4 separate regions of the Homo sapiens genome follow, and regions 1, 3 and 4 are each linked to region 2. The links come from fine-mapping of genetic effects on gene expression. A gene starts in region 2. Each other region holds a variant in brackets. All regions are shown on one strand. Distances are between the middles of the regions.

Region 1 (8,079 bases), 38 kb after region 2:
CCACCATGGTGGGGGGTGTCCAACATGCTCTGCTGGCCCAGTTCCCAGCCGATCCCCTGAGTCTTGGCGCCCGTTTAGTCACCCTTCAGCTGCTTGGGAGGCAGGAAGAGACTTCCCCTCTTCACGAGGTAAGGGAGACAAAAGCAGCCATTTGGATGCCAGGGCCACAGGGGCAAGCCATGCCCTATTTCTTTGGAGGGACAGAATCACTTCTTCCCAAGGCCAGACACTGTAGCCCATGGTACTCAGCCTTCTAGAGGAGGGTAGCCTAGCAGAGGAGAAGCCCTGAGTGGAAGCAGCATTTTGAAGGCATCGTCATTCTTAGACCAGCTAAGAGCTGAGGGCATTCTCTATCTTTGCCAGCAGACAGTGAGACTCCAGGATTAAAATTAAAAGCCCGTGGTGCATCCTTTCCTTGACATTAACTTTCCACAAAACCTTGGAGGAGTCAAATCCCACACTGCACATACTCCGGTGTCTCCAGCTGTGAAGTGGGACCAGTATCAATACATGGGAAAGTGCTGAGAAGGAAGAAAATATTTCAGGTATAATACTAATCCATCAAACACGTTTTATTCAAGAAGCTTGGCACCAACTTTGTGCCACATCCTCAACTCTTCAATGAAAAGAGCGGTGACCAACTCGCTCCCGTTGGTCCCTATGGCAGGTGTTGGAATGAGGTGAGGCTGGCCTCCTCTGTTTGCTCACAGCTTTATTCCTCTAGCTTCAGATAAAAATAATTATAATAGGCAATAAAGTCTCTTCACAGTGTATTTACTGTAACTACAACAGCTCGCAAGACACATTCTTTTTCTGCAGAATTGTAGCGGGTACTTAGGGAGTTTGCCGACCAGACCTTCTGCACAGGAAGCTGGCTTGCATCATGGAGGCAGTGGACTCCTGATAGTCCCGCCTGCGCAGGCCCCTTTAAGACACTGACACAAAAGACTGCCCAGAGTGGCATTTGCTGCTGAGGCTCCAGGGCAAAAACCCCATGAACAGGAAAGCATCCTCTCAGAAACAGATAATCCGCTTCTCATCTTCATAGACTTTGGCCTCCTCTGGTTTTATCAGGTTTCCATTTAGGCTGTTGAAAAGGAGGAAGACAAAAGTACACAGGTAAAATGTTAAGGATCCTCGCACACTCCTTCCCAAGGTGTGTTCATAGCACACACTCGTGTATCACACAATACACATGTATCCCTGAAATTAAGGAACATACCCTTTGCAGATAGTTCCTTCATATTAGCATGGATCCTCTCCAGCTGCCATCCCTCTGTTCACTGGGTCTCACTAAGGTCACCTGTAGCCTCCATAAGCCTGAATTTAATGACATTTTCCAGGTCTTGTCTTTCTTGGCCCTCAGGATTTTGGCTGTCCTGACCTCTCCTCTCCCTCCTTCTTGAGGCACTCCCTCCCCTTGGCTTGGTTATATGCGCTGATTTTTCTCCTGCATCTGAGCACTCTACTTCAATTTCCTTTCCTATATTCTCCTCCATGTGACCTCTACATCTGAGATTTCCTCCAGGTTTGGGGCTAAGCCCTTTTCCCCACCCGATCTCATCAATGCCACGGCCTTGTTTGTATGTCCGTGGAGGCAGTTACCTGCTTGGCATCCTCACTTGGACCTCTCCCCCACACCTCAAAGTAGCCACACCTCCTAGGGTCCCCTGGCTTAGTGAATGGACCACTCTCATCCTGCTGAGCAGGTTAGTAACCTGGGGGTCAACCTGGACACCTTCCTTCTCATCCCCATGTTCCTTGTATCACAAAGTTCTCCCCTAATTCCTAAGAATCTAGAATGCCTCCCTGGAACCTCTATGTCTTTGGCCGGCCATCTTGGTCTGAGCACCCATCATCTCTTCCCTGCATCAGTACAATGTCCTACTGACAGGTCATTTCCACGTACTCTGGCCTTCTCCAATTCAGTTTCCTAGAAGAGCCAAGAATTGGTCTTTTTGCATTGCAGATCTGATCACATGCCTCTCCTGCTTCAAACTGTTCACTGACTTTCCATCACTTTTAGGATAAAGACCAAAATGCACATCATGACCCACAGATCTTTTATGGTCCAGTCCCTGCCTATCTCCTCAGCCTCCTGTAGTCCCCTCTTCCACACTGTCTGAACCCTGGGGCACAGCAGCTTCTGGCAGTTCTTCCAGGACACCACACTCCCTCCTGCCCCAGACCCTTTGCACATGCTGTTCCCTACGCAGAATACTCACCTCAGCTGACTAGCTCCTATTCATCCTTCATGGCTTAGTGTAAGTGCTGCTTCCTCAGAGAGGCCTTCCCTGCAACCTCATCTAAATCAGGTTCCCTCTTGGCCTTCCCCTTTGTGATAGTACCCATCACAGTTGTAATTAAATAATTACGCAAATGATTTTTTCTTTAATGTGCTTCTCCCTTTCTAGACAGTGAACCCATGAAGCCATGTTGTTCACCACTGGATTTTTGGTGCTAGCACAGTCCCTGATGCTCAAGCGTTTCGTTATTCAAGGAATAAATGAAGACACAGCACTAGTCCCTAGGACCTTGACTCAGGCCCCACCCTCCCAGAGCCACAGTCTGGAGGAGATAGCCTCACAGAAAGCTGTTATACTGGAGTGGGATACATTTCTGTAATTTACAGTGTTCATTGTTCACCTCTAATTTCTGTTCTTAAAGACAGAACTCATCAAGGGACTTCAGACTTCCAAGTTATTTTCAGAAAGGAATGAGGTAGAAATAAGTGTCAGTACAGTTAACAAGTCCAAGGAGAAGGCTTACTCTGTAAGTGTTGGCTCCAAGCAGAGCTGCTCCCTGAACGTGGCTCCCCGGCCAGCTCAACCACAACCCTGTGGCCTGGTGTGGCAGTCCCTGGCAGGGCCAACAAAGCCACAGCCTTCTCAGAGCCCAGTCCCATGAAGTCACACACAGAGGAGCATGCTCTGGAGGCTCCCAGAACAAGCCAGGGACCTAAGTGAAGACACTCCCAAGACCAGCACCCATGCCGCCTGTCCTGCCCTCTCTGAATTGGTGGCCAGTTCCCCTCTCCACCCTGACACAAGTGCAGGCCTTGAAGCTGAAGTCTCCTGGCCCTACTAAAATGGTTCCTTGTGTAGGAATGGTGACCCTCAAGAGGGAAGCAATGCAGATTTTGAAACTTGACAGAATTAAAGCAACTGTAGGTCTTTACTACCCGCCTGACCAGCTACAGAGAAAAGTGGAAGCCAACTGTGCTCTGCAAACTGTTCTGTAGTCTGGCAGTCTCCTTCCTCTCCCCCTCTGCCTGCTGTCCTCAAAACTTAAGAATCAGCAGAAACGGAGTGGCCTGAGGGCAAACACCCATGCAAACAGTTCCAGTGCCCTCCAGTGCTTCCCAGGCTGCTGGGCAGGCTGGGCTTCGCAGGCACACAGGCCACAGGTGTCTGTTTAGATCTGGGCTCTATTCTCTATGATGGTGTTTTTCTTTTTTTCTTTTTTGTTTTTTGAGACAGGGTCTCTGGCACCCAGGCTGGATTGCAGTGGCATGATCCTGGCTCACTGCAGCCTTGATCTCCCATGCATCCATCCTCCCACATCAGCTTCCTGAGTAGCTGGGACTACAGGCACATAGCACCATGTCGGGCTAATTTTTGTAGTGACGGGGTTTCGCATGTTGCCCAGGCTGGTCTCAAACTCCTGTGCTCAAGAGATCTGCCCATCTTGGCCTCCCAAAGTGCTGGTATTACAGGCATGAGCCACCATGCCTAGCCAACAGTGTTTTTT[T/TA]TAAAAAAAAACCTTTTGTCTACAACCCTAAATAAGAATTACATTTTATGTTGTGAACCAACACTTATGCAAACACACACCCACTCACATGCAAGCATGAACTAAGATGAATGAAATGATACTTTCATACCATGCACATTGCATCCTGATATTTTGTTCTGTTCTGTTTTCTTTTTAAATATTGTTGGTTGCAATTCACCAAACTGATCGATTTTATGACAAGTTCCAAACAAGTTCTAAAGCAAAGTTTAAAAAACACTGTATGAGGAGCCTGTGTTGGCCAAGGAGCTGTTTTTTGTTTTTTTTTAATTGGCTATGAAATTCTCCCCAGTCATGAAAGGAGGACATAGTTAATAAGGCCCCTCTCCCAGCATCCACCCAGTCCCACGTCACCCAGGCAATTAAGTTGTTAAGGGAGCTGCTGAGTGGGGAGTGTCTGTGCCTTATGGGAGGCAAGAAAGAAGTGGCATGGCGCTCAATGTCACAGTAAAGCAAACTTTTTTTCTTCTATTAGCATAAGGAAGTTCTCAAAGCAGAAAAAAGAAGTAGACAAAGAGCACAGGTCAGTTCAAGTCAGCCTGGAAATGTCTTACGGAACCCAGAAAAGGGGAAGAATGAGCTCCAAACTCCTGGCCAACACAGTCATCTCTCAATTGCTGAGTCCCAGGGGGATTTACTTCCACTAGGAAATCATTTCACTGGCCACTTCCCCCATCCCACCCAATGAAGGTAGATGAGGGCGGGGGCCCAGGGCAGGAGAGCACAGAATATGGAATCAGGCATTCTGGGCTGAATTCTAGCTTCTCTCGTAGTGACCTTGGGCAACCTTATTTCACTGGTCTGGGCCTCTGTCTACCTCTGTAAAACAGAGGTAATACCATTACTGTGCAGGGTTGCTGGAGGAATAAACAGAAACCACCCTGCGTTGTGCCTTGCACAGTCAGTGGTGGTGAGTAAACAGTCACTGGTGTTATTACTGTGACAAACGCTGGGATCTTACCAAATCTCTGTTATGCCAGTGTTGCTCTGTAACGCATCTGCCAGCTGGGCAGTCCCCTTAGCTGTGATCTGATTCTGGATAAGCCTGAAAGAAGAACATAACTTGTATAAAATCCATAATACTGGATCAAATTTGACCCCTTCGTAAGGGAGTTGCAAGGGTGTTTTGGGATAAGAGACAAGTTGGTCAGGGGAAGAACTGAGTCCATGTGACTTTGTATCTGGCTAAAAGTGTCCAGGTAAGATCCACTAGAGTAAAGGATAGCTTGATATTTTTTAAATTTTCTGTTTGTTTTTATAGTGAACATAATGTAATACATGAACTGATGTGTGTGTTTGCATTTTTCACTGCAGAGGTGCATAATCAAAATATTTGGGGCCGGGTGCAGTGGCTCACACCTGTAATCCCAGCACTTTGGGAGGCCGAGGTGGGTGGATCACGAGCTCAGGAGATCGATACCATCCTGGCCAACCTGTCTCTATTAAAAATACAAAAAAATTAGCTGGGCATGGTGGTGTGCACCTGTACTCCCAGCTACTCGGGAGACTGAGGTAGGAGAATTGCTTGAACTGGGAGGTGGAGGTTGCAGTGAGCCAAGATCGTGCCACTGCACTCCAGCCTGGGTGACAGAGTGAGACTCCATTTATATTTTTATATATATTTGGGAGACCACCAATCTGAACAACAAATTGTAAGAAACACACCATGGGACAGGAAGTCTGACGTCTCCTTCCAGGTAGCTAGGGAAAGGCAAGGCAGGTTTTAAAGTTAAGAGGCTACCAACATGCAAGAGGGAGGGAGGAGAAACAGTTATGCTGCCATGAAATAGTTCTCATGAATAGTTCTCATGGGGCTCAGTGGAAAAGCTTTAATAATGGGGACTCTGAGAATGCACCCCATTGTTCTGGGTAGCAGTGATTCAAATGAAACAAAGTTTTCAGCTATCGCTAGGAAGCCAGGCCTCTCCTGAAATGCTCCCTTGGGCAGCTACGCTTCTAACCCAACCAGGAAATAAATGCATCAAGAGGCTGTAGTGTCTCCGCTTCATCACAGAGTCATTCCCTGCTCCTGGCTGTTTGTAGAATAGGCTCCTGCTAAACATGACCCTTAGAAATCCTGGCACTGACCCAAGAAGGAAGCCCTTACCAGGAAGACGAGGGCCCTATGCTGTCATGAATGAAGAGGACTCCCTCGTGAGAGGCAGTATTGCAGAGCGGGTGCAGCTCCTCTTAAACCCTCCCTCCCCACTGTTCAGCTACAGAACCTTGAAGAAATAAACGCATCTGTCTGTGCCTCAGTTGTGTCATCTGTAAACTGAGAATAACTATAAGAGTGCCCCCCATCCACTGGGTGTGTGAGATTTCAAGAGGAGGGTATTAGGCACAGTGTCCAGGGGGAAGGGAGCTCTTGTCACTGTTACTGCCCAAGCACACAGGACCACTGGTGGCTGGGCTGCAGCCAGGATCTGGTGCTCCCAGCCATACCCCACAAGGGCTAGGGCCCCTGGGTTCAATGGCAGAGGTAATGACCTTCCCTTTCAAAAGGGACAAAAATAGAACCAGGAAGTGGGCACCAAGTTCTGTATTCAGTTACACTCTGCTGTTTTCTAGTCACCACTTAGGCTTTTTTGAAGGCAGGGAAGGCAGCCTCCAACCAAGATGTGGCAGGAGGCCAGGAAGGAGAGCACCTAATGCCCCTAAAAAGCCTGCAGTGTCCAGGCACATCCACCCACTCGGGCTGCCTTCACTAGGGCCAGTGCAGGTTGGGAATGCACAAAGCAGCCAAGACTCTCTTTCTGACCCTGTCCTAGCTCTGCTCTCCCTGGAGAGGCTGGCCTGCACTTAGGGAATGGGATCAAATAATTCTGCAGGCTAAAAAGGAAAGAAAAAACAATATGTAGCAGAGTCTAGTCTTTTTGCAGAAATTGACAAGGTGAGTCTGAATTCATAAGAAATGCAAAGAACCCAGAATGGTCTAAACAATCTTGAGAAAGAAGAACAAAGTAGAACTCACACCTCCTGATTTCAAAATGTACTACACAAAGCTACAGCAATGGTCCTGGCATAGGAGAGACATATAAATCAATGGACCAGAACAGAGAATTCAGAAATAAACCCATACATTTATGGTCAATTGATTTTTGACAAGGGTGTCAAGGCCATTCAATAGGAAAAGATAATCTGTTCAACACGTGGTGCTGCCGGGACAGCTGGATATCCACGTGCAAGAGAATGAGGTTAACCCTCACTTTACACTATACAAAAATTAACTCAAAATGGATTGCAGACCTATATGTGAGGGGAAACAACTATAACGCTTAACAGAAAACTTAGGTGGAGTTCTTTGTGATCTTGGATTAGGCAATCATTTCTTAGATAAGACACTGAAAGCACAAGCAACCAAAGAAAAAAATAGATAAATTGGACTTCATCAAAATTAAAAACTATTGGCCAGGTGCAGTGGCTTTTCGCCTGTAATCCCAGCACTTTGGGAGGCTGAGGCAGGTGGATCACCTGAGGTCAGGAGTTCAAGACCAGCCTGGGCCTAAATGGTGAAACCCCATCTCTATTAAAAATACAAAATGAGACAGGCATGGTGGCTGATGCCTGTAATCCCAACTACTCAGGAGGCTGAGGCAGAAGAATCGCTTGAACCCAGGAGGTGGAGGTTGCAGAGAGCTGAGATCATGCCACTGCACTCCTGTCTGGGTGACAAGAGCAAGACTCCATCTCAAAAAAAACAAAAATTAAAAACTGTTGTCCTTTAAAGGTCACTATCAAGAAAGAGGAAAAACTCCACAGAAAGAAAGAAAATACTTGCAAAACCTGTATCTAGTAAAGGTCTAGCACCCAGAATATATAGAGAACCCCTATAACTCAGCATTAGAAGACAAACCCAATTTTAAAATGGGCAAAGGATATGGAGACATTTCTCCAAAGAAGCTATACAGACTCCCAGTAGGCACATAAAAAGACATTCAACATTGTTGTCATCAGGGAAATGCAAATCAAAACCACAATATTACTTCACATCCACTAGTATAACTAGATTTTAAAAGATGGACAATAATAAGTGTTGGTGAGGATGTGGAGAAATTGGAATCCACATACATTGCTGGCGAGAATGTAAAATAGTACATCCACTTTAGAAAACAGTTTGGTGGCTCCTCAAAAAGTTACAGAATTGCCATATGACCCAGAAATTCTATTCCCAGGTATATTCCCAAAAGAGATGAAAACATATGTTCACCCAAAAGCATGAACAGGAGTGTTCACAGTAGCATTACGCATAATAGTCAAAAAGTAGAAACAACCCAAATGTCCCATCAA
Region 2 (8,079 bases):
TCCCATTGAACTAGTGCTGGAATAAGAACTAATAGTGAGATACAGTTTTTTGTATTATAATATTTATGCTCTTCCTCCACATCTTCATTTGGCTGGCTCTTTCTTTGTTCAGACCTCTGCATAAATCTCACACCTCAGAAAGGCCGCCTGTGGCCACCCCATCTTTATAAAATAGCCTCTCTCTGATCATTCTGTCTAAAGAAGAAGACCACCCCCATTGTTCTGCATCCTGTTCCCTGTTAAACTTCTTAGCACTTAGCACTGCCTACCTCATCATGTTTGTTTCCTTGTTTATCTTATCTCCCTTCTCCCACTAGAATGAGGACTCGATGAAAGCGAGATTTTTTTCTGTCTTGTTCATTGCAGTATCCCAGAACCCAGAAAAGATTCTGACACAAAATAGTCATCTATAAATATTTAAGTCAATGACTGAATATTTAGAAAATTATTGTGGTATTTTTTCAGAGTGTTAACTTCTTTTGAAGTGTTGTGTGAAAGACATCCATTAGTATCTCTGAAATTATGAATTAAAAAGAAGGCAATAGGCTGGGCGCAGTGGCTCATGCCTGTAATCTCAGTACTTTGGGAGGTAGGAGGATCACTTGAGCCCAGGAGTGCAAAAGCAGCCTGAGCAACATAGTGAGACCCCATCCCTATAAAAAATTTAAAAATTAGCCAGGCATTGGTGGGGCATGCCTGTAGTCCCAGCTATTCTGGAGGCTGAGATGGGAGGATCACTTGAACCCAGGAGGTTGAGGCTGCAGTGAGTCATGATTGCGCCACTGCACTCCAGCCTGGGCAGCAGAGGAAGATCTTGTCTCGAAAAAAAGGCAGTAGGCGAATATAATTCAATATAAAATAAAACTTTGTGGAGTCATCTAATGCCAGGGACATAGGTGGACCGCACCTAATGATGATGAAAATAAGACTATTAATGAAGCAGTTCACATCAGCCTTTTGATACTATGCTTTTATCAAGTTTGTGTAAATGAGATTATGCAAATAATAGTGATGGCTCTCACTTTGGAGCACTTATCTGAGGTCAGGAGTTCGAGACCAGCCTGGCCAGCATGGCAAAACCCCGTCTCTACTAAAAATACAAAAATTAGCTGGGTGTGGTGGTGCACACCTGTAATCCCAGCTACTCAGGAGGCTGGGGCAGCAGAATCGCTTGAACCTGGGAGGCAGAGTTTGCAGTGAGCGGAGATGATGCCACTGTACTGCAACCTGGGACAGAGTGAGACTCCATCTGCAAAAAAAAAAAAAAAAAAAAAAAAAAAAAAAAAAAAAAAAGAAGCAAAATCTGAATTTCACTCATCTTGAGTATGAACTGGCCCTAGTAACTTGTTTCTAACTAACAGAATGCAACAGAAGTGATGCTGTATGACTTCCAGGGCTTAGTTAGAATAGGTAATACAGCTTCTAACTGGCTTTCTCTCAGGAAGGTTCTCCGTGGAACCAAGGTTCTATGCTGTGTGAGAAAGCCCTGGCCACGTCAACCACCAAACATGTGAGTGAGGAAGCCTTCTAGATGATTCCACCCTAACCACCATCTGGCTAGAGCTGGATGAGAGACCTGAGGGAGAGCTGCCTAGCTGAGTCCAGTCAATCCCCAGAATTGTGAGAGAAGATGATATATGATTGTTGTTTCATCTCACTAAGTTTGGGATGGTTTGTTACACAGCGGTTGATAACTAGACCAGAGACCTTTCCTAGAAACGCTGGAGAACACGTGCCAGGATGGTCCTGGACATCTCCATTGTTTGCTGCTTGCTTCTCTACTGTGCCCATTGCCTGTGCTTTCACCAAACCCCCTATTAACCAGACATTGTCAGCTACCAGAAGTTTCCTGTCTTAGGATCTTGACACTTTTGAGACTCTTTGAAGTTACGAGACATGATGGACTTACTATCAAAAACTTGGCAAGCACAGTTACATCAGCAAGTGTTACTTTGTTCAAGTAAGAGGGGAAATAGTGCAGCATGGCAGTTAACCCTGTGCTCTCTAAGCTTTTACTGAATTTCAGTGGGTCATTCTAGAGACTTGGTAGCCACATGCGTGTCAGTTTGTTGATATTCAGTATTGATTATTCTCATAGGAGCTGTATATAATTGTTTTGAGCTTAAAACAAAGAAAATGATTAGTTTATGGTTCTAATCTTTTGGATTTTTTTTTTTTTTTTTAGACGGTGTTTCACTTTTGTCGCCCAGGCTGGAATGCAGTGGCGCGATCTCGGCTTACTGCAACCTCCACCTCCCGGGTTCAAGCGATTCTCCATCCTCAGCCTCCTGAGTAGCTGGGATTACAGGCGCCCGCCACCACACCAGGCTAATTTTTGTATTTTTAGAAGAGACAGGGTTTCACCACATTGGCCAGGCTGGTTTTGAACTCCTGACCTCAGGTGATCCACCCCCCTCGGCCTCCCAAAGTGCTGGGATTACAGGCGTGAGCCACCACGCCTGGCCTTGGATGTTTTAAAGTAAAATTTTCCCCACTGCAAAATAATAGATATGTGTTGTAGGAACTTTTGGAAACACAAGGCACAAAGGAAAAAATACCTTCATATTTCTCCTTTTCCCATCTCCCCAGAGACTTTTTTCTCCTTATTTGTTGGCATATGTCTTTCCATACTCTTCAATGCATATATATTCACAGGATAACATTATATGTGGTATTTTAGAACCACATTTCTAACATTCCATTTATCATGTTTTGTATTTGCATAGTATTCCATTTCGTAGTTGTACCATAATATCTTTAGACAATGCTTGTGGTCAAATAATTTCCCCCAATATTTTACTGTTACAAAAAATGTTTCGATGAACATTTTGGTCTAAAGTTGATGGATCAAGGAATATAGGGGTCATTATAAGTTAACAAATACAGCGTCAGATCATGGTACTACTCTGCTGAAAATCCCCCTTGGCTCCCATCTTACTCAGAGCCAAAGCTAAGGTCTTTACCATGACCTAAAATACCCTCAGCCATCCGGAGTGTGCATGTATGCATACACACAGACATGTACATGCCACTCACTCCTGCCTCTCTAGCTCATCTTCTCCTGCTCACCCCTGACTTGTTCCCCTGAAGCTATTCCTGGAATACACCAGGCAAGCAAGCCCCTGTGTCAGGGCCTTGGCACTTCTTCCTTCTGCCTATAACAATTCCTCCAAGTATCCACAGGCTTCCTCTTTCACTTCCTTTGTTGCGTTGGCTCAGATATCGCCTTATCTGAGTGCCCTTCCTTAACTATACAATACAAAATAAGTTCATGAATCTGCCCTCACCCCTACATTCCCTGTTTCCTTTACCTTGTTCTATTTTTCTATAACATTTACCTGACAAATCTTATGTTTGTTTATTGTCACTCTTCTTCCAGAATGTAAGCACTGTGAAGTCAAGGACTTTGTTAGTTTTGATCACTATTGTATCCATGGGTTCTAAAGCACTGCCTGGCACATAGTTGGCACTCAGTAAGCTAAGAAATAATAAGACTAACATATTGGGATTGTGGCAAGGAGGTAAGTATACTCCACTTTTTCAAGGGGATTATAAAGGGCATCATTTTTAGGTGGGAGATATTGGACATAGGAGTTTGTGAACCAAGAGACAGAGAAAGATGTTACTTGGAGATATGGAGGTTATAAGTATCAGAAGATTAGAAGTTCCGGGGATGTTTTAAAGTAAAATTTTTCCCATTGCAAAATAATAGATATCTGTTGTAGGAACGTTTAGAAATACAACTAAAGCACTTTTTGCTTTACTTGGAGTGGGTGGGACTGGAATTGGGAGGAGGGGCCATGGAGAGGCTGCTTTTTTTCATTGTGCATCTTTCTGTAAGACGTGAATTTATACCATGTACACCAATTACTTAAATAATAAGAGCATGTTTGGACTTCCAGTTTCTGGTGATGGCTGGTTATGAAAACTTGAAGAAACAAAATAATGGCTTTTTTTAAGTGAAGAACTAAAAAAACATTGAACTTCCAGGCCAGTTTTTGGATAAAAGTCTATAACCAGGGAGGGAAATGGAATACTGGAACAAAAAGCTGCCTGTGCTGAGACAGCAGTTGCTGATACCACAAACACTTGTCTGCTGTTTCTGTGGCCTGGCTGAGCCAAGAAAACATGTTAAAGCACAGAGCCCACGCAAGACAGTGTGCTTGCAGGAGACCCTACCAACAGGAATCGGATAACAAGGAGCTAAAGGTAAGGAGGAGTCAGAGCTGAACCCAGTGCCCTCTTCCCAGCAGTTGTAATGAACTGTGGCTACCTTGGTGCTCTTGGAGCAGGGAGGAAAAGAAATAGAAAATACAATTTCCCTGGAAGGCCTGTGCATATCTGCTTCCCTGAAGATTAGCTTCTCAAATATACATAGCTGGTTGGGCCAAGGATTCTCAAAATCTGAATTCGGCAGAAGCACAGCAAGATCTCTCTGGAAGAGGGCTCATCTCAAGCGTCAGGAGACTCCCGTTAAATACTTATTCAAGAATAATGTGTGGCAAGCGATAAAGATTACAAGTTACCCAAGCAACTTGAATATGAATGAGAATAGAAAATCACAGAAGCCCAGCTTCTTCCACTTAGCATAATCATTTGAGTCATCCATGTTGTCATGTGTATTCAGCAGCTTGGTCCTTTTAATTGCTGAGTGGCAATCCATAGTTTACTCATCCATTTACTAGTGGAAGATTTGTGTTGGTTCCAGTTTTTAGTGACAGTGGTTAAGCTGCTGTTAACATTCACCTAGAAGTTTTTTTGTTTTGTTTTGTTTTGTTTTTGAGACAGAGTCTCGCTCTGTCGCCAGGCTGGAGTGCAGTGGTCCGATCTTGGCTCACTGCAACCTCCGCCTCCCAGGTTCAAGTGATTCTCCTGCCTCAGCCTCCCTAGTAGCTGGGATTACAGGCACATGCCACCACGCCCAGCTAATTTTTGCATTTTTAGTAGAGACTGGGTTTCACCATGTTGGCCAGGATGGTCTTGATCTCTTGACCTCATGATCCGCCTGCCTCTGTCCCGCAAAGTGCTGGGATTACAGGCGTCAGCCACTGCGCCCGGCCTCACCTAGAAGTTTTTATGTGAATCAAAGATTTTGTTTCTCTTGAGTACATTCCTAGGAGTGGGATAGCTAGTTATATGATAAATATGTATATATACTTAGTAGGAAATTGCCAAACAGGTTTGCAAACTGGTGGTGCCACTTTGCATTCCCACCAAAAATGTATGAAAATTCCAGGTGATTGGCATCCTCACCAGAATTTGATATTGTCTGCAGTTTTGATGTTTTTGCTATTTTTTTGTTTTGACTTGGGTATACGGTGCATTTCATTGTGTTTTTCATTTTCATTCTCCCAATGCAAATGATGTTGTGTATTTTTTCATATTCTTCTTTGCTACAGGTATATTTTCTTTAGTGAAGTGTCTATTCAACCCTTTGGCACATTTTTGAAAAACTGGATTGTATGTTTTCTTACTGAATCTTGAGAATTCTTTGTATATTCTTGATACAAATCCTTTATCAAAAATATGGTTTTGGCCAGGTGTGGTGGCTCACGCTTGTAATCCCAGCACTTTGGGAGGCCAAGGTGGGCAAATTGCTTGAGCCCAGGAGTTCGAGACAAGCCTGGGCAGCATGGTGAAACCCCATCTCTACAAAAAAAAAAAAAAGTACAAAAAATACAAAAAATTAGCCAGGCATGGTGGTGGCACACGCCTTTTGTCCCAGCTACCTGGGCGGTTGTGGCTGTAGTGAGCCATGATTGTGCTGCTGCACTTCAGCCTGGGAGACAGAGTGACACCCTGTCTTTAAAAAAAAAAAAATTATATATATATATATATATATGTCAAATATATATATATATATGTCAAATATATATATATGTCAAATATATATATGTCAAATATATATGTCAAATATATACATATATATGTCATATATACATATATATGTATATATATACATATATATGTCATATATATAACATATATATGTCATATATATACATATATATGTCATATATATATACATATATATGTCATATACACATATATATGTCATATATATACATATATATGTCACATATATATACATATATATGACATATATACATATATGGCATATATACATATATATGGCATATATATACATATATATGGCATATATATACATATATGTCATATATACATATATATGTCATATATATACACATATATGTCATATATATACATATATATGTCATATATATACATATATATGTCATATATACATATATATGTCATATATACATATATATGTCATATATATACACATATATATATGTCATATATATATACGACATATATATATGTCATATATATATACATATATATATATGTCATATATATATACATATATATATGACTTGCAAGTATTTTCTATTTTCTCCCAGTCTGGCTTGTTCTTTTGTTTTCTTAGCAATGTCTTTTGAAGAGCAGACATTTAAAATTTTGATGGAAGTTCAATTTATTGGGTCTTTTTCTTTTTTGAATTGTGCTTTTGGTGTCAAATCTAAGAAATGTTTGGTAAACCCAAAGTTACAAAGATCTGTCTTCTAGAAAAGAGGTGAGCAAACTTTTTCTGTAAAGGGCCAAATAGAAAATATTTTAGGCTTTACAGGTCATAGTCACTGTTGTAGCATGTAAGCAGCCATAAAATACATAAATGAATAGGTGTTCAGTAAAACTGTTTTTACAAAAACAGATAAAGATTTGGCCCATGAGCCTTAGTTTGCTAACTCTTGTTGTAGAAGATTTAGGTATTGCAGTTAAGGTATGATCCATTTCTAGTTACTTTTTTTATGTGGTGCAAGCAATGGGTGGAGAGTTTTGTTTTTGTTTTTGTGTATGTATATACACTTATTCTAGCATTATTTGTTAAAAAGACTGTTCTTTATCCACTGTATTATCTTTACACCTTGTTTAAAATCAGTTATTCATGGGTGTGGATTTATTTCTGAATTTTCTTTTCTGCATCTGTGTCTGCCCCTTCTTTATGACTATACTGTCTTAATTACTGTGGCTTTGTAGTAAGTTTTGAAATTGGGTAGTGTGAGTCCTCCAGCTTTATTTTTTTTTTCCTCAAATGTTTTAGTTTTTATAGCTCCTTTGCCCCTCCATATAAATTTTGGAATCAGCCTATTAATTACTACCAGACTTCCTACTGGGATTTTGATTGGGATTGCATTGAACCTATAGATCAATTTTGACATCTTAACAATATTGAGTCCTGTTACCAGTGAATGTAATATATCTCACCATTTATTTCAGTTTTTTGTTTGTTTGTTTTTGTTTTTTTTGAGACAGAGTCTCTCTCTGTCACCCAGGCTGGAGTGCAGTGGTGCAATCTTGGCTCACTGCAACCTCCACTTCCTGGGTTCAAGTGATTCTCCTGCCTCAGCCTCCTGAGTAGCTGGGATTACAGGCACGTGCTACCACGCCCGGATAATTTTTGTATTTTTAGTCGAGATGGGGTTTCACCATGTTGGTTGGGCTGGTCTCAAACTCCTGACCTCGTGATCTGCCAGCCTCAGCTTCCCAAAGTGCTGGGATTACAGTCGTGAGCCACCACACCCAGCCTATTTCAGTATTTTAAAGTGTCTTTCATCAGCGTTTTATGGTTTTCAATATACAAATCTTTTACATAATTTGATAGGTTTATACTTGAGTATTCATGATTTTTAGTGCTATTGTAAATTGTAAATAATACTGTTTTAAAGTTTTTAATATTCAGTTCATTGCTGTTATATGAAACTGACTGATTTTTCTATATTTCCTTTTGTATCCTGTGATCTTCCTAAACTCACTTACTTGTTCTAGTAGCTTTTTTTTTTTTTTTTGTAGATTCTCTGGAATTTTCTGCATAGACAATTATGTTGTCCACAGATCGAAACCATTTATTCCTTTCTAATCTGTACGCCTTTTCTTTTCTTTTTTTCTCTTTTTATTGTTTGCTCCTCCTTCCCTTCATGTGTCACTTTCCACCTCTGTCCCTTCTCTCCCCTTCCCTCTCTCACTCCTCCCTTATTACATTGGCTAATATGA
Region 3 (8,079 bases), 150 kb after region 2:
ACATACCAGAATCTCTGGGATATATTTAAAGCAGTGTGTAGAGGGAAGTTTATAGCGCTAAATGTCCACAAGAGAAAGGAGGAAAGATCTAAAATTGACACCCTAATATTACAATTAAAAGAACTAGAGAAGCAAGAGCAAACACATTCAAAAGCTAGCAGAAGGCAAGAAGTAACTAAGATTAGAGCAGAACTGAAGGAGATAGAGACATAAAAAACCCTTCAAAAAAATCAATGAATTCAGGAGCTGGTTTTTTGAAAAGATCAACAAAATTGATAGACTGCTAGCAAGACTAATAAAGAAGAAAAGAGAGAAGAATCAAATAGGCACAATAAAAAATGATAAAGGGGATATCACCACCTATCCCACAGAAATACAAACTACCATCAGAGAATACTATAAACACCTCTATGCAAATAAACTGGAAAATCTAGAAGAAATGAATAAATTCCTCAACACATACACCCTGCCAAGACTAAACCAGGAAGAAGTTGAATCCCTGAATAGACCAATAACAGGCTCTGAAATTGAGGCAATAGTTTATAGCCTACCAACCAAAAAAAGTCCAGGACCAGATGGATTCACAGCCGAATTCTACCAGAGGTACAAAGAGGAGCTGGTACCATTCCTTCTGAAACTATTCCAATCAATAGAAAAAGTGGGAATCCTCTCTAACTCATTTTATGAGGTCAGCATCATCCTGATACCAAAGTCTGGCAGAGAGACAAACAAAAAAAGAGAATTTTAGACCAACATCCCTGATGAACATCAGTGCAAAAATCCTCAATAAAATACTGGCAAACCGAATCCAGCAGCACATCAAAAAGCTTATCCACCACAATCAAGTTGGCTTCATCCCTGGGATTCAAGGCTGGTGCAACATATGCAAATCAATAAACGTAATCCAGCATATAAGCAGAACCAGAGACAAAAACCACATGATTATCTCAATAGATGCAGAAAAGGCCTTTGACAAAATTCAACAACCTTCATGCTAAAAACTCTCAATAAACTAGGTATTGATGGGACGTATCTCAAAATAATAAAAGCTATTTATGACAAACCCACACCCAATATCATACTGAATGGGCAAAAACTGGAAGCATTCCCTTTGAAAACTGGCACAAGACAGGGATGCCCTCTATCACCATTCCTATTCAACATAGTGTTGGAAGTTCTGGCCAGGGCAATCAGGCAGGAGAAAGAAATAAAGGGTATTCAATTAGGAAAAGAGGAAGTCAAATTGTCCCTGTTTGCAGATGACAAGATTGTATATTTAGAAAACCCCATCGTCTCAGCCCAAAATCTCCTTAAGTTGATAAGCAACTTCAGCAAAGTCTCAGGATACAAAATCAATGTGCAAAAATCACAAGCATTCCTATATACCAGTAACAGACAGAGAGCCAAATCTTGAGTGAACTCCCATTCACAATGGCTTCAAAGCAAATAAAATACCTAGGAATACAACTTGCAAGGGATGTGAAGGACCTCTTCAAGGAGAACTACAAACCACTGCTCAATGAAATAAAAGACGACACAAACAAATGGAAGAACATTCCATGCTCATGGATAGGAAGAATCAATATCGTGAAAATGGCCATACTGCCCAAGGTAATTTATAGATTCAATGCCATCCCCATCAAGCTACCAATGACTTTCTTCACAGAATTGGAAAAAACTACTTTAAAGTTCATATGGAACCAAAAAAGAACCCACATTGCCAAGACAATCCTAAGCCAAAAGAACAAAGCTGGAGGCATCATGCTACCTGACTTCAAACTATGCTACAAGGCTACAGTAACCAAAACAGCATGGTACTGGTACCAAAACAGAGACATGGACCAATGGAACAGAACAGAGCCCTCAGAAATAATGCCACACATCTACAACAATCTGATCTTTGACAAACCTGACAAAAACAAGAAATGGGGAAAGGATTCCCTATTTAATAAATGGTGCTGGGAAAACTGGCTAGCCATATGTAGAATGCTGAAACTTGATCCCTTCCTTACACCTTACACAAAAATTAATTCAGGATGGATTAAAGACTTAAATTTTAGACCTAAAACCATAAAAACTCTAGAAGAAAACCTAGACAATACCATTCAGGACACAGGCATGGGCAAGAACTTCATGACTAAAACACCAAAAGCAATGGCAACAAAAGCCAAAATTGACAAATGGGATCTAATTAAACTAAAGAGCTTCAGCACAGCAAAAGAAACTGCCATCAGAGTGAGCAGGTAACCTACAGAGTGGGAGAAAATCTTTACAATCTACCCATCTGACAAAGGGCTAATATCCAGAATCTACAAAGAACTTAAACAAAATTTACAAGAAAAAAATCAAACAACCCCATCAAAAAGTGGGCAAAGGATATGAATGGACACCTCTCAAAAGAAGACATTTACGCAGCCAACAGACACATGAAAAAATGCTCATCATCGCTGGCCATCAGACAAATGCAAATCCAAACCACAATGAGATACCATCTCACACCAGTTAGAATGGCGATCATTAAAAAGTCAGGAAACAACAGGTGCTGGAGAGGATGTGGAGAAATAGGAACACTTTTATTACACTGTTGGTGGGACTGTAAACTAGTTCAACCATTGTGGAAGACAGTGTGGCAATTCCTCAAGGATCTAGAGCTAGAAATACCATTTGACCCAGCCATCCCATTACTGGGTATATAACCAAGGGATTATAAATCATGCTGCTGTAAAGACACATGCACACTTATGTTTATTGTGGCACTATTCACAATAGCAAATACTTGGAACCAACCCAAATGTCCATCAATGATAGACTGGATTAAGAAAATGTGGCACATATACACCATGGAATACTATGCAGCCATAAAAAGGGATAAGTTTATGTCCTTTGTAGGGACATGGATGAAGCTGGAAACCATCATTCTCAGCAAACTATCGCAAGGACAGAAAACCAAACACGCATGTTCTCACTCATAGGTGGGAATTGAACAATGAGAACACTTGGACACAGGAAGTGGAACATCACACACTGGGGCCTGTAGTGGGGTGGCGGGAGCGGAGAGAGATAGCATTAGGAGATATACCTAATGTAAATGACGAGTTAATGGGTGCAGCACACCCACATGGCACATGTATACATACGTAACAAACCTGCACGTTGTGCACATGCACCCTAGAACTTAAAGTATAATAATAATAAAAAGAAAGACCTAGAGATGTAACTGTGCATATGGGAATGATTGGTTCTGATTATACTGGAGAAATTCAATTAGTTATTAGTTCTTCAACTCCGTGGTCTGCTTCCCTAGGAGAAAGAATTGCTCAGTTGTTGACATAAAGCTGGGAAGCAGTACAGTGAAAAGAACTGGAGGCTTTGGTAGCACTAATCCAACAGGAAAGGCTATATATTGGGTTAATCAAGTGTCTGACAAAAGACCTATTTGTACAGTAGACCTGCTGTTGGATGCTTACCGGTTGACACACAGGACTGGTTGTCAGTAGTCCCCAGAAAAAATAAATCATGGGCTGCTTTGCATAGGGCAAGTGAAGTCATCACGCTTCAGTTTCATGGTTAACCTACCTCTGCTACAGAAAAACGATTTAATCAGCACACAAGGAATGTGTTCATTGTGGTATTTGTGGCCTTTATGATGGGAATGTTCAACGTCTACTCCTACTACATTGGTGCAAAACAAAATGAAGCCTTCACAACAGAGTTTTAAGACACTGTTCTGGGCTATATTTGGACTTTCTGAAGTGAAATCAGTGGTCATCAGCTATAACCACAAATTCATTGCTATAATGTTCCAGGAAATTGAGGATGACGCTGATGTGGAGTGGAAATTTGCAAGGGCCAAACTCTTGTTTTCCTGCTTTGGGGCGGGGAGAGCACTTCCTGTTCCCTTCAATCTGGTGCAGGGTCCAGTGTCCCTGTTTTTCTCTTGGTGAAGCTTAAAGGGTGGATTTCTGAGCTCTACTCAGGGTCATAGAAAAGGTTTCCAGGAAAGATGCAGAGATAAGTAAGTAGAGATAAGTAGAGACAAGTAAGTAAGTAGAGATAAGTAAGTCTAAGTAGAGATAAGTAAGTACAGCTAAAGGAGATAAATATAGAGATAAATAGAGATAGAGATAGATAGAGATATAGATAGATAGAGATAAATAGAGATAGAGATAGAGACAGAGACTTGCAGGAACTCACAGGTACCACAGGGACAGATAGGGATAGATGAAGACTAGCAATATAAAATCAGTGCCCTAAAGAGGTACAAAAGCAAAGACTAGCAATATAAGGTCAGTGCCCTAAAGAGGTACAAAAGTAGAGGCTAGCAAAGACTAGCAGAGATTTGCAGGGACAGACGAGAACATTCTGAATTATGGAAATTAGCTATGGCTCAAAGGGCAAATATAAAAGGAATAGAGCGGGGGAAGGTAAGGATAAAAATGCTTTTTCTTTTTTCTCCAATAGGACTCTTTGGTCCTTTAAACTTAAAGGGCAGATGCATTGGTGTCTGTGGTCTTTGCTGATGCACAAGAATTCCATTCTTTAATATGAGGAAGAGGATTTGTTTGTGTCTCTCCAGGTGATGATCAGGTGCCTGTGTGGGTCCTCACCAAACATCTGAAGATCTGTCATGAGCCACAGCATCTAGTGGACCCACCTGTACAGTGCAAATTGAAGGTTTAAGGATTGCTTTTAAGCCTTGATTTGCTTTCCTGGTGCCTTCTGTTGGAAGGGCCTGTTTCTCAATATCAGTGGCCTCCCAGCTACAGCCACAACAGTTTTTGCTTCTGTTTCAGTAGATTTACTAATGTGGGGGTGAGGGTATGCTTGTGTTTTTGCAGGAGATGAACGAACCATGTGGATGCCCTCAAGACGTGTACGACCATGGAATGGGAGACTGGAGGGACCCATGGATCCTAAGCATGGACTGGGTTCCCCAGTAC[G/C]AGCCATGAGCCAGCTGAATCTGAATGAGAAGATGGAACGAGGACCGACCGGAGTCTTGATGCTTAACAGACCAATGCTTTCTGGCTGAGCTCCTCTCTACCCTGAATACAGAAACCCTAATAGTTAGGCAGGAGTATCATCACCCCTATTCAGCATGAAGAAGTTACAGAAGATGGACCTTCATCCTTCTGCAACCCCTAGGATTAAGGGTCCTGTAAAAGGGAAAGCGGAGATATGTGGGAAGCACTCAAACCAGAGTGACTCCGGTTTGAATAAGGGCTAAGAAAAATGAAGCTGGATCACCAACCGGCAATTAAGGGCTGCACAGCCTGCAATCACCTTGCTAATGATAGCTAGTAATAATACTTTCTCTTTTACAAAAAAGAGAAGGGGGGCATGTTAGGAAAAAGCTGAGTGTTGGGAGAAACTGAGGCAGGGCTTGCATATCTGACATAATGTCCTCTGGAATGTGTCTAGCCTTGCTGGCTCCTTGCTTCTAGCCTTCCTAGGCTCCTACTCCCATTATCTCAAGTAGCAAAACATGTTCCATATAAACGCTAAACCATCACAGCTGTAAATCATGTGCTTAATGCAACATGTCCTTTTGACCTCCACATTCTCACCACATGTTTCTTTGTTGGACTGCCAATAAATAGCATGGGCTCCCAGAGCTCAGGGCCTTCACAGCCTCCACAATGGCGATGGCCCCCTGGTGTCCCACCTTTCTCTTTCAAACCTATTTCTCAATCCTTTGACTCCACCAGACTTTGTCACCCCCATGACCTGGTGTTGGGTCTGATCACCCCAACAGACAATAGATTTGGAAAGAAAACAGAGCTTCTTGGTTCTGGCTGCACTGGAGAAATTTGAAAAAGTACCAGTGCCCAGGCCCTCTACCCCAGAGAGTGTCAATGAATTGGTCTGGGCGTGTTGGAATCAACTGAGAGCTTTTACACAGCACCACTGCCCAGGCCCCACCTGAGCCCCATTAAATTAGAAATGCTGGGGGCGGGGCCCAGGCACTGACGTATTTTGAAGCTTCCCCAGTTGAATTGATTCTAGCTGGAACTGAGAACCATTCCCATCTCCACCCCACAGAAGGACAAAGGAAGGCCATCTGGGCTGGAATGGAGTTGGGAGAAGGCAGAGGCATGGTCTCATAGAAAGGGGGACAGCTGAGTGGGGTCATTCCCTAAACCTGTCACATCTGTATAAATCCTATCATTAATCTCTCCTTAATATGTAAACTACACTTACTATAGCTAATTTAATAAATGGAGGTGTTCTCAACATCTTCCTCCAAAAGCAAAAAACAAAAGCAGCTTTCGTCAGTTACCTTGTGTGAATGTCACCTGCTTCCTGCCAGATCCTGACTGATGTGCTGTGTTAGGCACCTGGTTGCAAAAAAATCAGAGGTGGTCTGGTTGCCATGAGCATGTGGTATAAGACAACATCTGGACAAGAGCTGGACTTGAAAGCTGTTCACGAGCCTAAGTTTAGAAAACGCTTCTGCCACCAACCGTCATTTCCCATGCCTCTCTCAGACCAGAATGGCCACATCTTCCTGTGCTGCTTTTGGCTCTGTTCTCTCCATGCCCATTACCTGCCCCAAATCTGCAGCCCAAATGCCAGCAGAGCACCAGTGTCTGGCCAGCTTCCACCTCAGGTCCTGGTGGGTATGGCGCAGTGGACACCACACCCACCTCCACCCAGAACAGTGCCTTGTGGCTTCCCTGGGTAGAGGACTTCAGACAGGGTAATGTCAGCAAAAAGGGAACAACACGTGGGACTGTAAGTCCAATTAAATCTCTTTCTTTTGTAAATTGCCCAGTCTTGGGTATGTCTTTATCAGCAGCATGAAAACAGACTAATATAATGAATGTCCCGGGATGGTAGATTCCAAACTGTGCTCCTTGAAACCCCTAGGACTTTAGATTTAAATCAGATCCATGAAGTGGCCCAAGAGGATCTTCAGAAACTTAGGAGGGAGTTTAAAGCTGAAAAATTGTAAAAGCCATTCTCCTAAATCAGTGAGCTTTAATGATTCAAAGGAACTTAAAAATTATATCATCAAACATTTTTACTTTCAGGTAAAGAAACCATGGACAGGTCTTGTTTCCCAGGACCTTCTGACAGAGCCTCTACTGATTTTGAGTACAGTCCACGGGTCCAAAGGAGGAAGGATGGACTGGCTGCTGGCCTGCCAATGGCAGGGGTTCATGTGGCTTGGTCTACCTTACCAGTGTCCAGGTTGAACCCTTAATCACTAGTGTAATTCCTCAGTCAAGCCTATGTAAATCCAAGTGCTTATATAAAAATAAGTTATTTCAAATCAGCTTGCGACATCATGATGATGATGATGATGATTACTATTATCATTATTGAAACAGGGTCCTGCTCTGTTGCCCAGGCTGGAGTGCCAGAGGCATGATCTCAACTCACTGCAGCCTCCACCTCCTGGGCTCAGAAGATACTCCCACCTCAGCCTCCTGAGTAGCTGGGACTATAGATGTGTGCCTTCACACCCAGCTAATGTTGGCCAGGCTGGTCTGGAATTCCTGGACTCAACCAATCCACCTCCCTCAGCTTTCCAAAGTACTGGGATTATAGGCATGAGCCACCACACCTGACCCAATTACTTTTAATAATAATAGTGCTTGTGGTGTTGATTAACATTAGGGAACACCATGATTAGAAGGACCCTCTGAAAGGCCCCAGGCAATGATTTTGAACCTTCTCTTTGGGCATGCACTATTTTCAGAAGCTGATGAAAACTCTGGAGCTTCCTCCCAGAAAAATGAATATACTTCAGACACATTCCATCTGTCCCAAAATTTCAGGGGTGTATAGACTCCTTGAAGCCCATACTTGAACTCCAGATTAAGTATTTGTGTTCTTCAGCATACACCCTGGGCAGAATTTTTCATCTGTCTTTGACAGAAGATCCAGATGGCAAAAACTTCATGGTTCACCTTTCCATCTGCCTGGTACACATCTTTTTATTTTAAACTTATTTATCTCATTAACACAGATGTAAAACAACAGTAACAACCCCTTGTTATGCTAGAAAAGGAAATAAGGAGACTTGAGTCACGTAGCCGATACACATGGATAGGAGGGCACTTTTCCTGTCATTAG
Region 4 (8,079 bases), 140 kb before region 2:
TAAGTTTTAGCTATTATTAATATTGATTGGATTTTTTTCCCCTTGGCCCAGAATTAAACTTATTGAACCAAAAGAGCAAGTGCATTGCCGTTGAAACTCTTTAAAACCAAGTCCTTTTCAATCCCTAAAGTATACCAACTATTATAACTGGAAGCAGCAGCATACCAAGAGTGGGTTTGGGCATGGGCGGGGGGGCTTCCCTATATTCAGGAATTAAGAGGGTTCATTGTCAGTATAGAATTTTTTAAAAATAATTTTTAAAAACCCAAGTGAAATAAAACATTGATCTGCTTTTTATGATCACCATCTACCAACATTTCTAAACAATGTCATTGATAAAATTGCCCCCTCACAAAACTTTTGTTTGCTTAAGTTCTAAACATTGCTGCAATGACTGTTGAGTTTTAATAATAGATCCATAAGTTGCACATCAACACATTTTTATTACTTATCCTTTAATAAAGATTGTGTTCTTTATTAAAGTAAAGTACTGGAGAACTCTGAGTTATATAGTCAGCCCCTCATGCCTACAGACTCCATTTGTAACAGTTTTGAACTGGGGCTGGCTTCAATTTGTATCTCCAACTTGAGCAGTCCTTCACATTCCTGCATGCAAACAGCAGACTCAGCAACACAGATTTAGTGGCTGCAAAGACAAAAACATGGAATTTGAGTTACTTCAATTCTGTGTGACTTTGGGAAATTTTATTTCTATTATATTTAAATTTAAATTGGCTAACAGAGCATGAACTGTGAGGTATGGTATTTATTTGAGCATATTTGAGTGATCTTTTAAAAGGAAATTATTCTTTTAAAATTACTTGTTTTTCAGAGTAAAGATCAAGAAGATTGTGCTTATTTCTGATTATTACATGATTACTGCTGAAAATATTTTTGTTATATAGAGGATGTATTAGTTCGTTCTCATGCTGCCATAAAGAAAGAAAGGGTTTTAATTGATTCACAGTTCTTCATGGTTGGGGAGGCCTCAGGAAACTTACAGTCATGACGGAAGGTATCTCTTCAAAGGGCAGAAGGAGAGAGAATGAATACCGAGTGCGGGGGAAGCCCCTTATAAAACCACCAGATCTCGTGATAAACACTATCAGGAGAACAGCATGGGAAAAACCGCCCCTCGTGATTCAAGTATCTCCACCTGATCCTGCCCTTGACATGTGGGGATTATTACAATTCAAGGTGAGATTTGGGTAGGGACACAAAGCCAAACAATATCAGAGGAAGCAGAGATTAAGAAATGATTTACTCTGGTAACAAATATGCTCATTGTGCCACAGCACAGAAGGGACTTAGAATCTAGTGTAAGCCCTTCACTCTACAATTATCAGAAGGGAAGTTGTCTGAGGTCACCCAGCTAGGCAGTAGCAAAGAGACTAGACAAAACTCTCCTAGCTATTGCCGGACTACTTTTTCCATCCTCTACTCCCAAGGTAACTGAAATAGAACTATAGTGTTAGTGTTTCTCAAACTGGTAAAGAATCAATTTCTGAAATTTTTCAATCTATTGCAGAATAATACTAGCACACAGCCCAGACTACTGGCAGTTCATCATTCAAGTTCATACCATCCAAACAGTCACTCTCCTGCTGAACAAGATAAGTCCACTGATCACACACTTGGATACAGCAGCAATATCAAGTTGCCATAAACGTTTTTAAATGTTTACTCTCAATTTCTGTTCTTATCCCATCATAGACCGGTGACGGTTTCCTGACCAGCTTTGAGTAGCTCTGTACCATCTCATATAGAGTCCATAGCAGGGACTTATGGGCAGGAAAACATCTCTGGATAGTTAGATAAGCAATTTTTAGCTTTTGGGTTGTTTTGACTTTGTTAAATTTCTGTGAGGTTAAGGGCTTAGGTTTGAATTACCATCTGTATACTAGCTGCATGGCCTAAGCATCTTTAGGTGAGTTTTCTCATCCATAGAACAAGGGAACATTAGTGCCTAGCTCAGAGGGGCTTTTAAGGGGATATGCGTGTGCAACCGAGGGTGGGGGCTGACATGTAGTAAGCCCTCTTGTGTATTAGCTATTATTAATTTTATTGCCCCCTCCTCTTTTTTTTAATGTGGGAGGAGGGTGTTGCAGAATAATGTGTCACAGTATAGTTACTATTATTAGGGTTGTTGCTTTTCTAGCCAGAAACCTCTGTGGCCGGTGGCGCCTTTGCCTGAGTTATTGTCCTGCATCCAGGAAGAATGAGGCATGCAGACAAGTGGAGAGTGAGCAAGCTGAAGAGGAGCTTTATCAAGTAGTAGAACAGCTGAGAGGAAACCAGCAGTGGGTAGCTCCTCTCTGCAAGCAGGTCATCCCATCACCTCTGCAGCTCTCAGCAAAGGCTTGGACTGGGTGGCTCCTCTCCACAGGCAAGTTGTCCCAATGAGTGTTCAGCTCTCAGCAGAGAGGGTAGTTTCTGTCTGCTGAGAGCAGGCCCTAGCTCCTCTCTGCAGCTGGTTGTCTGGATGTCTGCTGCTCTCAGCAGAGAGGAGACCCTGGAGAGGCTAGCTCTTCTCTGCAGCTGGTCATCCAGAAGTCTACTCTGCTCTGGCTGAGTCGGGGGTTTTTATGGTCTTCGGCAGGGGGGTAGTGCATGCTGATTGGTCCATGGGCAGCCATAGGTGGGCCCAGGGTAAAGCACCCCGAGTTCCCCCTCTGGTCAGCAGGACTGGCAGCCTGGTCCCCAGGCTTTAGGACTTTCCCAGGCTGAAGGTGAGGCTTCACCGGGGACCCAACCCCTTCTGCCCAGGAGCCTGTCTGCCTCCCCCTGCTGTTCATGGCACCCAGGCTATTTGTCCCAAGGTGAGCCTGCAGGCCAGTGCTGAGCTGCCCTCATCCCCCCGCTCAGCTTCCCTCCCATGCTTGTTGGCACCCAAAGTTCAGAGGGGGCTGAGGGAGCAGGGGGCTGGCGTATCAGTACTGTCCCAAGCATGCGTCCACCTGGCTGGACTGTGTCAGTACCCGGGCTTGGCCCCAACCTTACTGTATGATCAGAGCAGGCACTGGGAGCAGGGAGAGGCCAGGCAGTGGGAGCAGGCACTTCCGAGCCTGTTGGGGGCAGGGGCACCTTCCTGGGCCCCCAAGGCACAGAGACACCCAGTCTGGAGCTGCACCAGGGCAGCTGCAGCAGCACCGGAGGAAAGCAGGGCTCCTGCCTGCTCCCTAGAGCGGGAGCCCAGCCACACTTTCCCACCACAGCCAGTGTCTTGGCAGCAGCCACTCTAGATGGGCTGTTGCTGCCATCACCATAAGGCAGCCCAGGGAAGAAATTATGCCAAGTCAGGAGTTAGAGCTGTGAGCTCTGGCCCTGTTTTCTGGTGACCTGTCAGGATCACTACGCTAGAGGTGCATTCAGGAAGCAATGATGGGGCATCGTCCTGCGCCAGGCTTTCACTGTCCCTGGCAGAGAAATGGTCCCTGTTCTCGAGGGTCTCACGTCGTGGAGAAGAAGCAGAAGAGATACTGTCAGCAGATACAGGGGCTGTCACAGAGGCAGGATCCCACGCAGAAGAACTCCAGCTAGCTCTTCTCCATCTTAAGTTTCCCAGTTTGAGCTCACAGAGAAAGCCCAGTTGGGTTTGTGTTACACAAGGGCACCGTCTCCATCTTTGCTTCCCTTGAGGAGAGATTGTCACCTTGTCATGGGACTTACGATGACCTTGACATTGCTGCATCTCCTCCCATGACAGAGTGGTTTTTCACTGATCCTGGATAAATGAATTAACTGCAGTGGTGCTGGTGGCAGGGGGTGTGGAGGGAACAGGAAATACTACAGAAAAGGGGAGATGTTGTATTCGGGCTTCGAAGGATGAGGAGGAATCTGCATTGCAAGGTGAATGCCCAGGGGTTGGACATGTTCCGTGACAATAAAAAGTCCCCATCTTTCTAAGATCTGGCTTTCTCATCTGCGGGATGAGGATAAGGAAACTGCCCTTGCCTCACTCATGGCATCCTTGGGAGTGTCCTCTGACGGACCCAAGGCAGAAATGTTTTAGGAACTATGAACTGCTGTACAAATTATTATATAATACTCAGCCCCCAGCACAAACATTGACTGTCAGCAGAGAGGGTTAGAACAATTGTTTTGCAAGTTGATGAATTATTTTAATCTTTTATAAAGTGAACTCTCCCAGAATGGTTTTCATTAATGTCCGATACCCACAACTGAACCACCACGCCACTTGTCTTTTACTAAAACACTGATAAAACAGAATCCAGCTTGCCTTTGTGAACGTGTTAAAAACGATGTTTTCAGGGAGAACAATAGAAAAGTAGCCAGTGTTGTCAGTTTGACATTCCTCGCTAGGATTTATTCAGGCTGCTGATGTCTATA[T/C]GCAAACAGTACATTTAGAAGCCAAATGGGTTCTGGTGCCTTATGAATTTCTTTCTTCTCCCCAATTTGCATAGAGGGGAGGCCAGCAGGAAATGTAGTGGCAATCAAATTTCACTTGTAATGAAACAATGCAGTGTTTTTGACTGTGGATGGGTGTTTAAATAATCTTGACAGTAGCAGCTGGTTCCTTTCTTCCTTTGTCCAATTAGGTGCTGTTTTTTCTGCAAGGATTACTCAAAGGCAGTCAAACCTTGATCCTCCCTGTGTCAAAAGTCTGCCTGAAAGCCTGACTTCTCATCATCTAAGAAGAAACAGCACATTTATTTTTCTGTCTGGGTGTGACACCATTTCAGAGAAAGGTTGCTAGCTTTGAGCTGAAATGTTATTTCATCCCTGGAGTGTAGGTGAAGGCTGTTTCTTCTAGGGATTGGAGAGAACTGTGCCAGCTAAGGCAAGTACTCAGGATAGCCAGATGCTGTCAGCAAACAAAGAGTCTCGGTGGAAAGTGAGAAAGTGTGCATTAGGGTGAAGAGGCTGAATTGCCACCTATCCGTAGCTCTGGGAAGAGAGAAGCTCTGTAAATAATCCACTTTCAGGCAGTTTAATGCTTTGAACATAGTAACAGCCCATGCGCAGAAATCATCTGATAGAGCAGATTGCAAATTTCACTTCCAGCAGTGTGGTTGTTCTTGCACTACAAGGAAAGGTTCTGGCAGCCTAGGGAGGAAGAGGGAAGAGAAGGAGGGGGACTTTGAAATATGGCCTGGCCCTCCTCCCACCTCCATGATGCCACGGGGAAGGGGTATCTCAGAAGGGATCCTAGCTATTGATTAGAACCAGTGTAATTTTCTTTGTCAGCACTTAAGACTGTTTCCCACTACCTGTAGACTTCCCAGATTAATGAGTCAATGGTGTCCATGGGGCACCTCTTATATGTGCAACTGATCCCCAGCATCCGGAGAGTGGTATAAGGTTTATAAAATGTTTTTCATTTACGGTGTTGTATATTTTTCCTCCCAATAATCCTGATGGGTAAGAACAGACATGGAAGTTATTTCCCTGAAAAAAGAGGTAAAAGAATAAGATGTCATAATAATAATAATAATAATAATGGCTCAAATTTATTGAGCATTTACCAGACTTACTATCCAAATGATCACATTTAATTCTCATAACCACCTTGTAAGGGAGGTACTCATCACTCCCAATTTGCAGATGAGAAAACTGAGGTTCAGAGAAGTTAAGTAAACAGCCTAGGTCATACGAGTAGGACACAGCCCACTCCAGCTGAGGCAGAGCCTGTGGTCTTCTGAATCACTATGCTATGCGGCCTGGGTCTCTGACACTTAGCCCTGTTCGTCCTCCAGGGAGAGACATTTGACCAGTATTAAGAGCCTACTGTGTGCCAGGAATAGCTCTAGACACTGGTGATGCATTCATTCACTCAACAAATATTTCAGTATTTCCTGAGTGCTCACTACATGCCAGATTCTGTTTTGTGTTTGGGGTACATCAGTGAACAAAGCTCTCTGCCTTCCTGGAGTTTACGTTCTACTGGAGCAGGCAGACAAGAAACAGGACACATTTAAGAAAATCATATGGTATGTTAGCAAGTGATACACTCTATGGAAGAAAGAAAACTTACAGCATAGTAAAGGGTACCAGGAATGCTGGAGTTGGGGTAGACAGGGTACACTTTTAAATAAAGTGGCCAAGAGAGGTCTCATTAAGAAGGTGGCATTCAAACACAAAAATGGAAGGAAATGAGGGAAGTAACTGTGTCCACATATAGGGAAGAGCATTACAGACAGAGGGAAGAGGCAGTGCCCAGCATGTTGAAAGAACGGCAAGAGGGTAACATGGCCAGAACTGTGAATGAGGAAGAGACAGCAATAGAGATGTGATCACAGCATGGTGAGGACCCAGTCATGGCAGGCCCCCATGTCACTGTGAAGACTCTGAGTGAAATGGAGCGCCCTGGCAGGGCTCTGAGCAGAGGAATGGCCTTTTCTTGTTTTTGTGTTTAAAGAACCACTCTGAATGCTATTTTGAGATGAACTCTAATGTGGCAAGGGTGGAGGCAGGTCAGAGCCAATGCAGTGATCTAGGGAAGAGATAATGCTGGCTCGGGCTGGGCAGTGTTGAAGGTAGTAAGAAGTGGTCAGATTCTGTGGGTGTTTTGAATGTAGAGCCACATTGCAAGACTACCAAGTCATTAAATCAACTGAAACCTGGAGTTTCAAAAAACCTAGACTTAAGAAAACCATTTTCATAACAGAGGAACAGAACATAGGATTTCATGCATGGTGACTTAGAATACTGAAAATTAGTGCTAGTTAGGAAAGAACTATACTTAGACCCAACAGAAAGCATGTCAATAAGAAAACTAGAAAACATAATACATTCCTGTTGTTGTTCCTTGTTTCATTAAATTCAATGCATTCACAAAAATAAAGCAAGCCTCACTAACAAAGCCACATCATTTATAACTTTGCCCTTGTGATTGTGCTGTGAGTACATTCCACAGACAGAGTTAACAGTATTTTAAGAACCATTGCTTCTTTGTTTTCCAAGCTGAACCCTGTTTTACTCCATTGGGAAATATAAATAATGGGAGAAAAGGAAGCAAGATAATGCAAGTATTAATTAACCATTCCTGATCCCTATGACTACAGACACTTTGTGATTATAAGAATCCTAAGAAAAATGGCTTTTTTCTTCTAGGCTTCATCTATTAGATGCTAATGTGGAGAACAAAGTGGCCAGATGAACTTGATTAGCATCACTCTAAAGGAAGATGAGTTGTACCTAGGCAGTTGTCGTGGGCTTGGTGTTTTTTACCTTCTCTATATAGCACAGGAAGTGTTTTGCTGCTAAGACTCGGTGGATCATCATTTGTTCTTTTATCATGGGTGGGTGTGGGCAGAAGATGAGCATCAACAATATTTACTGCTTGACTCCTATGTGCCAGCACTCTGCTACTGTCTCATTCTCCTTTGTACACCCAGTTTATAGTCTTTTAATTCAGCCTGACAGTGTTCTTTATTGAGGTGCACACCATCATTAATGTTCACAGCTGAATGAAGATCTGGCTTTCTAAACAGCTACAGGATTGATGGTTTTATATTAAGGGAGCATTCTCCTCAATGGAGCTGACTTTTAAAAGTGGACTCTGGCATTGGATTAAGTTCTGAGTATTAGGAGATCACTTAGAAGGTCTGTACCTTCCTGCTTGCCTGGTGGCTAATTGTGCAGCCATTATCAGATTCCTGATTAAGAAAGTATATGATGAAAGTTTCCTATGAGGAAACTACTGTGGATAAAGGCCTAAGCTTAGCCTCTTCAAAATACGATTAAATATTAGGTTGGTACAAAAGTAATTGTGGTTTTTGCCTAATAGTTGAGGCATTCTTATTAATCAGGATCACTATTTCTGGAAGTTCTAGCCACTAATAGGCAAGAGAATGAAATAAGTATACCACATTATAATTATTTGTGAGAATTATTAAAAATAATAAAAGTTCAATCAGAAGCCACTGCTAGAAATCACATTACATGTCTTTGAGAGAAAGCCCAGGCACAATCACTGCTGTCTGGGCAGAGCCTCAGAAATCAACTTGCTCACTTAAGGCAAAGGAACATTTACTATTATACTGAACTTTGTCTACACTCAAAAATGGGATCAGAAGAAAGGGAAAGGTTTGTGAACCTCAAGTCCAAGAATAAAAA

Evidence for each region. PIP is the estimated chance that this variant, and not a neighbour inherited with it, causes the effect.
Region 1: its variant is fine-mapped to the expression of LINC01176 in gastroesophageal junction (GTEx, PIP 0.97).
Region 3: its variant is fine-mapped to the expression of LINC01176 in sun-exposed skin (GTEx, PIP 0.96).
Region 4: its variant is fine-mapped to the expression of LINC01176 in ileum (GTEx, PIP above 0.99).

Annotation. Positions count from the first base shown.
Region 1 is chr7:30,424,624-30,432,702 of GRCh38, forward strand. NOD1 (nucleotide binding oligomerization domain containing 1) reads right to left here. Exons shown (of 14, transcript NM_006092.4): 13 at 4,751-4,834; 14 at 1-1,087. The coding sequence ends at 1,015. Among named protein-coding and RNA genes, the nearest start is that of LINC01176, 38 kb to the left of the region's middle. The variant T/TA (reference allele first, on the strand shown) is at 3,751.
Region 2 is chr7:30,386,827-30,394,905 of GRCh38, forward strand. LINC01176 (long intergenic non-protein coding RNA 1176) reads left to right here and starts at 4,059. Exons shown (of 3, transcript NR_108081.1): 1 at 4,059-4,209. RefSeq lists an enhancer at 4,241-4,859.
Region 3 is chr7:30,540,435-30,548,513 of GRCh38, forward strand. GARS1-DT (GARS1 divergent transcript) reads right to left here. Exons shown (of 7, transcript NR_038889.1): 7 at 7,923-8,079. It also overlaps the pseudogene TRPC6P10. Among named protein-coding and RNA genes, the nearest start is that of GARS1-DT, 33 kb to the right of the region's middle. The variant G/C (reference allele first, on the strand shown) is at 4,941.
Region 4 is chr7:30,243,328-30,251,406 of GRCh38, forward strand. The region is part of intron 2 of LOC124901607 (a long non-coding RNA gene); the gene reads left to right. LOC105375218 (a long non-coding RNA gene) reads right to left here. Exons shown (of 4, transcript NR_136267.1): 4 at 4,100-5,067. Among named protein-coding and RNA genes, the nearest start is that of ZNRF2, 37 kb to the right of the region's middle. The variant T/C (reference allele first, on the strand shown) is at 4,351.